3 linked regions of the Homo sapiens genome follow. The protein of the gene in region 3 purifies or fractionates together with the protein of the main gene of each other region. This does not show direct contact. Each region holds a gene or a part of one and is shown on either strand. Other genes may lie near its edges.

Region 1 (3,648 bases), on a different chromosome or scaffold from region 3:
GGCTAACTTTTGTATTTTTAGTAGAGACAGGGTTTCACCATGTTGGCCATGCTGGTCTTGAACTCTTGACTTCAGGTGATCCACCTGCCTCAGCCTCCCAAACTGCTGGGATTACAGGCATGAGCCACTAGGACCAGCTACAAGGCATATTCACAGGCAAGTTGTTTACTATCTCTAGGAATTTGCCTACCCTGGGAGAGGTAGTCTTTTCAGGATTAGCACGGCCCCAAGATGTCAAAGCATCAGAAAATACAGACAATAAATTATGAATGTTATAGCCATATTTAAACTCTGACTTTGTTCATGCTGGTTGCTTAACTGCTTTCATTATTGTTTTGGAAGCCAGGCTGAGCGACCATCTGACCTCAACAACCAGAAGATCCCAGCAGAAAAGAGAAGTACTCACCCAAATAGCCTGCTCTCACTTCTGGTGTCAATGGTTCATTCCCAATAAATGTGTCATCCTGCAGGTCTGCCTTCAGGTCAAGAAAGCCCCCAGCCCAGTCCTTGGCTCCTACTGCCCCCACGACTGCATGGCCCTGCCCAGGGAAGGAGATGAGCGGGTCAGCTACCCACCGACCCACCCCCCAGAGCCAACTGCACTCCCTGCAGCCCATTGCTCCAGCCCAGCACGCACCCTGCTGAGGTCAGCACTGATGCCGCTGGAGGACAGCTCCATGTTGAAGGAAGTCAGGTCCTGTTTGCTTGTGCCTGGGGAACAAAGCAGAGAACAGGTGAGACCCAACAGCAGTAAATGCAGTGAAAAAAATTCATGGCAGGACGGGGAAGAAGTGAGGTATTTACTTCTGGGTAAGGTAGAAGGCATGCATGTGAGGGTCAGGCAGACCCAGGAAGTGGCTTAATGCGGAGTTGGCTTTTACCCTGGGAGTCCCAGATTTGTTTGTTTTTTGTTGTTGAAACAAGGTCTTGCTCTGTTGCCCAGGTTGGAGTGCAGTGGCGCAATCACAGCTCACTGCAGCCTCAACCACCCAAGCTCAAGCAACCCTCCGGGCTTAGCCTCCTGGATAGTGGGGACTATAGGCACACACCATCACACCTGGCTAATTTTTTTTTTTTTTTTTTTTTTTTTGAGATGGAGTCTCTCTCTGTCACCGAGGCTGGAGTGCGGTAGTGCAATCTCAGCTCACCACAGCCTCTGCCTCCTGGGTTCAAGCGATTCTCCTGCCTCAGCCTCCCGAGTAGCTGGGATTATAGGTGCACCACCATGCCCAGCTAATTTTTGTATTTTTAGTAGAGATGGGGTTTCACCATGTTGGCCAGCCTGGTCTCGAACTCAGGTGATCCACCCGCCTCGGCCTCCCAATGTGTTGGGACAATGACAGGTGTGAGCCACTGTGCCCAGCCTCCAGATTTGAATATCCAATTACTCATCTCCATGTGTCCAAGACTCAGCTCTTGGTTTCTGCTCTGACTCAGGCTTCTCACTTCAATGAATGGCACCCCCACTCACCTAATGAACCATGCTAAGAAACCAAATCCACCTGGAGTCTTCTCTATACTCCATCTCATCTCCAACACATCACCAAATCATGATACTCCTGCCTTTGAAATACACCCTTTTTCTTTTTTTTTTTTTTGAGACAGGGTCTTGCTGTGTTGCCCAGGCTGGAGTGCAGTGGTGTGATCATAGCTCACTACAGTCTCAAACTCCTAGGCTGAAGAGATCCTCCTGCCTCAGCATCCCAAGTAGCTGGGACTACTGGTATGCACCACCGTGCCTGGCTTATATAGCTTCTCCTTAAGAACTCTTCACTGGCTGTGCGTGGTGGCTCATGCCTGTAATCCCAGCACTTTGGGAGGCCAAGGCAAGCAGATTACCTGAGGTCAGGAGTTTGAGACCAGCCTGACCAGCATGGTGAAACCCTATCTCTACTAAAAGTACAAAAATTAGCTAGGCATGGTGGGACATGCCTGTAATCCCAGCTACTTGGGAGGCTGAGGCAGGAGAATTGCTCGAGGCTGGGAGGCTCAAAAACAACTGGAGGTTGCAGTGAGCCAAGATCGCACCACTGCTCTCCAGCCTGGCTGACACAGTGAAACTCTGTCTTGAAAAAAAAAAAAGCCAGGCACAGTGGCTCACACCTGTAATCCTAGCACTTTGGGAGGCCAAGGCGGGCAGATTACCTGAGGTTAGGAGTTCAAGACCAGCCTGGCCAATATGGTGAAACCCCGTCTCTACTAAAAATACAAAAAATTTATCTGGGTGTGGTGGCAGGCGCCTGTACTACTAGCTACTTGGGAGGCTGAGGCAGGAGAATCGCTTGAACCGAGGAGGCTGAGGTTGCAGTGAGCCAAGATCACACCACTGCACTCCAGCCTGGTGACAGAGCAAGACTGTCTCAAAAAACAAAACAAAACAAAACAAAAAACCTCTTCATGGGCTGGGCACAGTGGCTCACGCCTGTAATCCCAACACTTTGTGAGGCTGAGGCAGAAGACTTGCTTGAGCCCAGGAGTTAAAGATCAGGCTGGGCAATATAGTAGAAACTCTGTCTCGGCCGGGCGTAGTGGCTCATGCCTGTAATCCCAGCACTATGTGAGGCTGAAGCAGGAAGATTGCTTGAGCCCAGGAGTTCAAGACCTGCTTAGGCAATATAGTAGAAACTCTTTTTTTTTTTTTTTTTTTTTTGAGACGGAGTCTCACTCTGTCGCCCAGGCTGGAGGGCGGTGGCACAATCTTGGCTCACTGTGAACTCCACCTCCAGGATTCACGCCATTCTCCTGCCTCAGCCTCCCGAGTAGCTGGGACTACAGGCGCCCGCCACCACGCCTGGCTAAGAAACTCTTGTCTCTACAAAAAATTTAAAAATTAGCCAGGTGTGGTGGTGTGTATCTGTAGTCCCAGCTACTCAGGAGGTCAAGGTGGGAGGACTGCTTGAGCCCAGGAGTTTGAGGCTGCAGTGAGCCGTGATCGCACTACTGCACTCCAGTCTGGGCAACAGAGTGAGTCCCTGTCTCAAAACAACAACAACAAAAAACTCCTTCATGATTTCTCATCGATCTTCACACTGAAATCCAAACTCTTTCTGAGGGCCTGGAAGACCCTTACCTCCCTGCCAACCTTCTCTCTCCCTTCCTCACTGCGCTTCGGTCACACTGAACTTTTTCCATTTTCCTGGCATGCCGAGCCCTTTCCCCGCCCCTGGGCTTGCACCTGTGCTTCTCTCTGCCCTCATTCCACCTTTCTCACATTGCTGTTTGAATCTCATCTTTCATATCTCAGCTTAAAAGCCAGTTGAGAGTGAGTTTTTTTTAAAAACTTTTTTTTAAAAAATCACTTTTCATTTTTATTAATTATTTAGACATGGCTTCTTGCTATGCTGCCCAGGCTGGACCATTGCTGCTGATTTTTTTTTTTTTTTTGAGACAGTTTTGCTCTTGTCACCCAGGCTGGAGTACAGTGTCACAATCTCAGCTCACTGCAACCTCTGCCTCCTGGGTTCAAGCGATTCTCCTACTTTAGCCTCCCAAGTAGCTGGGTGACCTCAAGTGATCCGCCTGCCTCAGCCTCCCAGAGTGTTGGGATGACAAGCGTGAGCCACCACGCTCAGCCCATTGCTTCTTTAACTGAACCGAACACCAAGGCTGTGTCCTAGCAAAGGAGACTTTCCTGTAGGAATCACATAT
Region 2 (3,648 bases), on a different chromosome or scaffold from region 3:
TATCTGGGTGAGGCTGTTTTTCCCCCAGTCTCTCTGAAGCATGGAAAGAAGGAGGGAGTCATCATTGTTCCAGTTCCTTCTGGACAGTTCCTTACTTTCCATTTTTCTATCCCTTGTACACCCTGTACCCCCCAATCCAGAGAGCTATAAACAGGACATTGGGGGTTAAATATGAATGAATCTTTGAGAAAGTGGGTGAGCTGTAAAGGGTATGCAAGTTAAATATTTTGCTTGAAGTTGAAAAAGCAAGGCCGTGACCAGGGCTGGCCTGCTTGCTGTTCCTGAGCCAGGCTCTGCCCTGGGCTCATAGTACTAAGGGGTGCCCCAGAAGAGACCACCTGAACACATGGACACTGTTCTTATATTAGGAGCCCTCCAACCCCAGAACCTCCAAGTACCTTCTCTAGAAGCAATTTTTGTGTGTGACACTGTCTTTCTGCAAGTGGTTCACTGAGTACAGCATCAGGAAATGAGGCTGATTGAAGGCCAAAATAGAATGAAGTGGGTGTGGGGGAGTAGGAGATGGGGGTGTAAGGTGGACAGTGGGGTGGAGGTGAGGTTGGTAGAATTGCCCAGTTACTCAACAAAAGCATTCTGAGAATGAGGCTCTTACACAGAGACTGTGAAATGCCTTCCTTGGGACCCACCCTAGCTTCTACTTCCTACCGAGGTTCCCTCTTTCTGGTGGTTCTGCCCAATCTTCCTGCTCTTCCTTCTGCCTCTTAGGAGGCACTGAGCTAAGGGGCCTTCCCAGATCTCTGACTTCAGGTGGAATCAAAGCATATATACTCCTTTCAAGCACTATGCTCTTCTGATTTTCTTCCCAAAGAGTCAGACTTTAACAGAGTGCTTTTCTCCTACAGTCACTTTATCCTCCAAGCCACAAGCACTGGCCACACCAAACAAGGAGGAGCACGGGAAAAGAAAGAAGAAAGGCAAGGGGCTAGGGAAGAAGAGGGACCCATGTCTTCGGAAATACAAGGACTTCTGCATCCATGGAGAATGCAAATATGTGAAGGAGCTCCGGGCTCCCTCCTGCATGTAAGTGCCCCTTCCCCAGGGCTGAATCTCATCAGCACACTTTGTCAGCCACGTGGCTGTTCCTCGTTGTCACTGTTCCTTGAATTCATAATTTCACCCAGTTTCTTCTCAACCTCTGGGCGGAAGTTGGGAGGAGGGGAAATATATTTTTAGTCAGCGGAAGCCCCCTCCCCCCTATAGGATGCAATTTCCTGTGGTATGGTTTTGTGACGTGCTTTAATCCTTGGGGACATTTCCTGCTTGCCCAGAAATGAGCATGTGGCTAGGACAGCTGGCACCTGAAGGCAGGCCCTTAATTCTTGCCTGATGCCCTACTCTGGGAGGGAGAAGCCAGTAGGAAACATGGCAGAGTGGGCTTCCAGGGCAGAGTAGAGCTCCTGTGGGAAGGTAGGAAGTGCATTTGGATGCATGATGTATAGGTATGTGTGTATTTGGGTTTATGTGCATGTAAGTGTGCAAATGTGGATTGACTGTGAGGCATGGCAGGACTGTACAGAGAGGGATCATCATGGCGGCAGGTTGAGGCCTCTCTTTCTTCTTCCTTATCCCAGCAAGGACGAGGAGGTGGGAGACATGGAGAGTACTGGCCTTTGGCCACGTTGTGAGAGAACAATTCCTTTGTGCAGGGTTCACAGGAAATGGAACCTGACCCATTAGGCATCAGCCCCCGGTCAGGCAACATCACCCCTTCCCTGGGTAGGTGTGTGGGTGGAGGGGCTGTGGGTTCCTTAGCCTCTCTCCTAAGCCAAACCCAGCAAACGGCTGCCTTGGCAACCCCTCAGGGATGACAGCACTGCCATGCTCTCTGGCAGGCATAATGTTGCCACTGTGCCTGAGGCCAACACCCTGCGTCAGGCTGCAAACATCCATTCCCTTCCCTGTGGGGAGGGAGGCTCTGGGGGCCTTAGTGGGAGACTCTGGACAGGGCCAAGAGACTGTTGTATGCACACTGCCTCCAGCCTGTCAAGAAGGCGGCGTGCCTGGCATCCCTTCTACTGGTGATTGGTGCAGATCCCTTAGCTTTTTAAAGCTTCCTTGTTTTGTCTGATCACACACAGCAGAGCTGCCCTGTATTTGGCAGTTGGCAGACAGACCCATCACTCCCCACCATGTCCACAGTCACTTGTGCATCCTTTCCTATAACATCCTTGTCAGGAGCTTGGTATTAGAGGGAGTTGTTTAAGAGTGGCATAGAAAGCCCCCATATTATCCTTCCCAAGGTCTTGGGACAGGGTGGGAAATGTTCATCTTAAATTTGTAAAATGGCATCATTAGTACAGGGTGAAGAAGGTGACTCAAGTAGTCAAGGTGGATTGAGGTCAGGAATCTGTCTATACCAGATTGGTCCTGGGCATTTTGGTGGATGGATGTGGGGCTTGCACTGTGTGGTTGAGAGGCCTTATAAGGTTGCCCTCCTGGAGAGCTGGACTCGGATGACCACCTAAACCCAGAGAACCTGATATGGGTGCCCAGGCCACCTTCCCAGTGGTCCCTAGGGATAGTGATAACTATAATGATGTCATATCTCCTTTGTCCCAGAGTTTCAGTGTTTATATATAATATGAGTTGAGCCCAAGTATGTTGAGCCCCTATTTGGTGGCAGACACTACTTTAGGAGCTGGAGAGATATAGTTTCCTGGGATTTTTCAAAAGCCCTCTGCTGAGTAGGCAGGACTTGGTACCTCTACTTGAAAGGTGATGAAACTGGAGCCAGAAAATAGGAAGTAATTTGCCTGAGGTCAATAGCTAAATAAGTAGTTGGAAATAAGACAGAGTCTCAGTACCTGACTCCTAGTCCAACATGCTTTTCATGCCCTCAAGCTGTACTGGGTGTTGGCTTTCATCTTTCTTTCCTGTATCTGTCCTTATAGAGTTGGAGCAGCATTTTATAGAGGGCAGAGGGCAGCTGTTGTCCTAGAGGTCTCTTATTCTTTTACTAGTCTAACAGCACAGCAATCTGATTTGAAAACTTTACATTAACTTCTTGGGCAGAATTTTCTTTTTCTTTGTTCTTTTCTTTCTTTCTTTCTTTTTTTTTTTTTTTTTTTTTTTGAGACAGAGTCTCACTCTGTCTCCCATGCTGGGGTGCAGTGGTGTGATCTCAGCTCACTGCAACCTCTGCCTCCTGGGTTCAAGCAATTCTCCTGCCTCAGCCTCCTAAGTGGCTGGGACTACAGGCACCTGCCACCATGCCGAATTAATAATTTTTATATTTTTAGTAGAGACGTAGTTTTGCCGTGTTGGCCAGGCTGGTCTTGAACTCTTGACCTCAGGTGATCCGCCTGCCTCAGCCTCCCAAAGTGCTGGGATTACAGGCATGAGCCACCATATCTAGCCTTTTTTTTTTTTGAGATGGAATCTCGCTCTGTCACCCAGGCTGGAGTGCAGTGACACAATCTCGGCTCTCTGCAGCCTCCGCCTCCCAGATTAAAGTGATTTTCCTGCTTCAGCCTCCTGAGCAGCTGGTATTACAGGCACATGCCCCCACATCTGGCTAATTTTTAAATTTTTGTGGAGATGGGGTTTCACCATGTTGGCCAGGCTGGTCTTGAACTCCTAACCTCAAGTAATCAGCCTGCCTTGGACTCCCAAAGTGCTGGGATTACA
Region 3 (3,648 bases):
CCTCGCCCTCCAGGTGCGTCCCATGCCCTGGGGGTACAGTGTACCCATGCTGGTGAGTTAGAGATGACATGAGCTTTACCCTGTGTGATGGGTTGGGTGTCTTAGGAAATGTTGGCCAAGTGCCCCTGCAGGACTCCTGACCTCTACCTCCCGGAATGGGCCTGTCCACAGGTAGCTCTAAAGAGGGTCTTAGCCATCAGGCCCATTCCTGTACCTCCTAAGCATCATTTCCTCCCGGGCTTCTTTCTTGCTCTCACTGGTCCGTTCTCTCACCTTCTTTCCAATCTTCAAATAACCAAGCTCCTCCTTCCTCAGGCCTTTGCACCTGCTGTGTTCCCTGCCTGGAATGCTTTTCTTACAGATCTTTGCTTGGCTGACTTCTTCATTCATGTCTTGGCTCAAATGTCACTGGCTCAGGCTGGCCTTCGTCGACCCATTCTGACCCTCTCCCAGCCCAGCAGTTCTCTGCAGTTAGCCAGCTTTGGTATCTTCATGGCGCCCAACACAACCAGAAAACCTGTATTGTGTACTTTTTGTCTCCACTCCCCACCCCCAAATGTCAGACCTTGTTAGTCACTCTTCTGCATCCCCAGCAACTGGCACAGTGCCTGGCATGAAGTGGGCACCCAGTAAACATTTCTTGGCCGAATGAACATGCAGCACACCTGTAGCAATACATGTGCCCCGTGCATCAGTGGAAAGAGTGTGGCACTGGAGATTTGCATATTTTCAAATTCCAGCTCAGGCCCTTGCCTGTTCGCCTTTCTGAGCCTCATTTTTTTCTTCTGTGAAATGGCCATGCTAGTGCCTGCCAGGCAGGGTGATGTCAGAGTTGGAGACGGCGTGTGGAAAGCCCATGAGGCACAGTGAGTGGGCAAGAAAGGCTGGTGTTTGTTATTATATGGACAAGAAGGAAGGCGGGTTAAAAATCAGCTTGGAATCTTAATGTCAGTGGCCCCTGGAGAACCAGCCAGCCTCTTGTCTGTCAATTCCGCAGATATTCACTGTGCACAGCACCTCACTGCGAGAGGCGCTGTTCGAGCTGGGGGTTCCCCAGGAATAAAGTGAAGCTTCTGCCCTCATGCACCTCAGGTCCTTGGTGGAGGGGGAGAGCAGACAATGAGCAAGAAGAATCAGTGAAATGTAGTCTATTCAATCCTGAGAAGCCTTACGAAGTAAAAAATAAAGCCGGGAAGGGGCTTAGGCTGGATGAGGGTGTGGATTGCAATTTTACTGGGGGAGGGACACAAGTGGGGATGGGGGTGACCTGGTTCCCTGTTGGGCAGTGAGAAGCCAGCAGGGGAATGCAGCTGACCCCAACACCCTGGCTCCAAAGAGGGGATCCGGAAGAAGACCTGGACGGTTAGGCCAGGTGTTTATACCTGCTGTGCCCACTGATTTTGTACTTCTTCTTCCCCCTAGAAACCTCCTCCAGCTCGCTTAGGATGGGGGCCTATGTCTTCATCGGCGTGGGGGCAGTCACTATGCTCATGGGCTTCCTGGGCTGCATCGGCGCCGTCAACGAGGTCCGCTGCCTGCTGGGGCTGGTGAGTACGGATCCCTCCGCAGCTGCCTGCCCATTTCCTCTCATCCAGCCGAGTGCAGCCTGACCGCGGCGCTGGCCGTAACATCGGGTGGAGAGCATCTCTCGGGGCACGCAGGCTGGGTGCACCTGGTCGGGGACCCTCAGCTGACTTTGTGCCTGCTCTGTGTCCCCAGTACTTTGCTTTCCTGCTCCTGATCCTCATTGCCCAGGTGACGGCCGGGGCCCTCTTCTACTTCAACATGGGCAAGGTAAGCCCCTCTCTCCCTCCCTCTTCACTGGGCTGGACCAACCATGGGGGTGATTGACTGAGTGTGGGGGATGGACAAGGAACCCCCCCAGTTGTCACAGACAGATCCAGTAGGTGTCAGGGACGGCCTCCTGGACACTATTCCTTGTGATCAAATGGGGGAGCGTTAGAAGAGAAGGCGGCAGGTGTGGGCAGTCCCCGCTGGGCCTGGATCTTAGCCTGACCCCCCTGCTTTCTAGCTGTGTGGCCTTGGGCAAGCTGCTTGCCTCTATGTGCCTGTTCCACCATCTGTAAAATGGAAACAATAAGAAAACTGAACTCTCAGAGTGGTTGCAAAGATTATTCGAGATTATCTGAGTGAAACACATAGCGCATGGCACCATAAGTACTCAATAAATGTTATTCTTGTTATTATTAAGATACTTTAGCAACTATTAAATCCATGCCACTCACCCACAAATGAGGTTTAGAAGGAGACCGTTAATAAAAACATCAGTCTTGTGTCCGAGGGGAGATGTTCAGCTTTCAGAAACAGAAAATCAGACTTACAGCGGCTTAAAGTTGAAGGACATCTGTGGTTGACTTGACCGGAAGTCTGGTTTGGAAGCTCAGAGGCCCTGGTTCTGGCTGTTGAGCATCCTCGCTGGGATGGCTTTCCTGCATTATGACACTTACCTCGTGGTTCCAAGATGGCTGCCACAGCACCAGGCACGATGTCTGTGCCGCTGTGGCCTGAAGATGGGGAAGTGGGCAGTGCCAGACATGGCCATCCCTTTTATCAGAAAAGGCGCAGTGGCTCATGACTGTAATCCCAATACTTAGGGAGGCAGAGGTGGGAGGATTGCTCTGAGACTAGCCTGGGCAACATGGTGAGACCCCATTTCTACAAACAAATTTTTAAAAATGCTAGCCATGGTGGTGTTCACCTGTGGTCCCAGCTACTCAGGAGGCTGAGGCAGGAGGATCCTTGAGGCCAGGAGGTTGAGGCTACAGGGAGCCATGAAACAGAGCTTGGGGCAACAGAGTGAGACCCTGTCTCAAAAAAAAAAAAAAAAAAAAGTCCTCCAACAGACTTCCCCAGACTGGGTTACAAAGCCACCCCTGGTTGCAAAAGAGGCTGAGAATGTGAGTATCCAACTTTCAGACTCTAAAGACAGAGGCACAAGAGAGAAAGGAGCCAAGAATGGCTGTTGGGTGAGCCAGTTAATTGTGAGTCACAGTTATCACGTAAGAAGCACCTACTGTGTGCACGTGGGATCTTCTAGAAACTTTCCATACAGCGTCTTGTCCTCACAATGGCTCTGCAGGGTTTTATGTTGACAGATGGAGAAGCAGATGCTCTGAGATGAAGAGCAATAACAACATAGATAACAGTGACTCTAACACCCACCATCCCTCCAGTTGAGTCCATGCACAGCATATACCAAGTACAGTGTTGACCACGTTACACTCCTCCTCTCGCAGATCCTCACTAGGCCCTCTCAAGGTCGTGGGAGAATCCCCGTCCTGCAGATGAAGGAGTAAGGACAGCCTAGGCTCCCTGACTCCGAGTCCTGAGTTCACCCGTCCCCAGACCCTGCTGCACATGGCCTGTGGCCTAGCAGACCCTTAGGGTCCCTGCTTCCAGTGCCACCAGTTCTTGTCCACCAGGGAGGGTGGCAGAGCCGGCAGCCAGATAGGCTCCTGCCCTTCACCACTTGAAGGTCAAGTTGCCTGAGATCCCTCTTGGAAGGAAACTGAGAAAACACTATACCAACATCAACATCAACAAATAACATTTAATAGAACTTAGAACTTAATGGAACTTCACAAGACAAGATACTCTTGGTAGCTAAGGGCTAACTTGGGCACTGAG

Evidence for each region.
Region 1: the proteins of CD82 (region 3) and ITGAL purify together in Homo sapiens (affinity purification with western blotting, with the first as the bait; one study listed by BioGRID). This does not show direct contact.
Region 2: the proteins of CD82 (region 3) and HBEGF purify together in Homo sapiens (affinity purification with western blotting, with the first as the bait; one study listed by BioGRID). This does not show direct contact.

The regions. Positions count from the first base shown.
Region 1 is NC_000016.10:30,486,145-30,489,792, reverse strand, and holds part of ITGAL (integrin alpha-L isoform a precursor), read right to left. Parts: intron 899-3,648; exon of another isoform or gene 827-898; coding exon of another isoform or gene 805-826; intron 712-804; coding exon 638-711; intron 540-637; coding exon 407-539; intron 1-406.
Region 2 is NC_000005.10:140,340,028-140,343,675, reverse strand, and holds part of HBEGF (proheparin-binding EGF-like growth factor precursor), read left to right. Parts: intron 1-863; coding exon 864-1,041; intron 1,042-3,648. UniProt on the Homo sapiens protein: Growth factor that mediates its effects via EGFR, ERBB2 and ERBB4. Required for normal cardiac valve formation and normal heart function. Promotes smooth muscle cell proliferation. May be involved in macrophage-mediated cellular proliferation.
Region 3 is NC_000011.10:44,603,636-44,607,283, forward strand, and holds part of CD82 (CD82 antigen), read left to right. Parts: intron 1-782; exon of another isoform or gene 783-823; coding exon of another isoform or gene 824-866; intron 867-872; exon of another isoform or gene 873-1,095; intron 1,096-1,382; exon of another isoform or gene 1,383-1,422; coding exon 1,423-1,547; exon of another isoform or gene 1,548-1,702; intron 1,703-1,719; coding exon 1,720-1,794; intron 1,795-3,648. UniProt on the Homo sapiens protein: Structural component of specialized membrane microdomains known as tetraspanin-enriched microdomains (TERMs), which act as platforms for receptor clustering and signaling.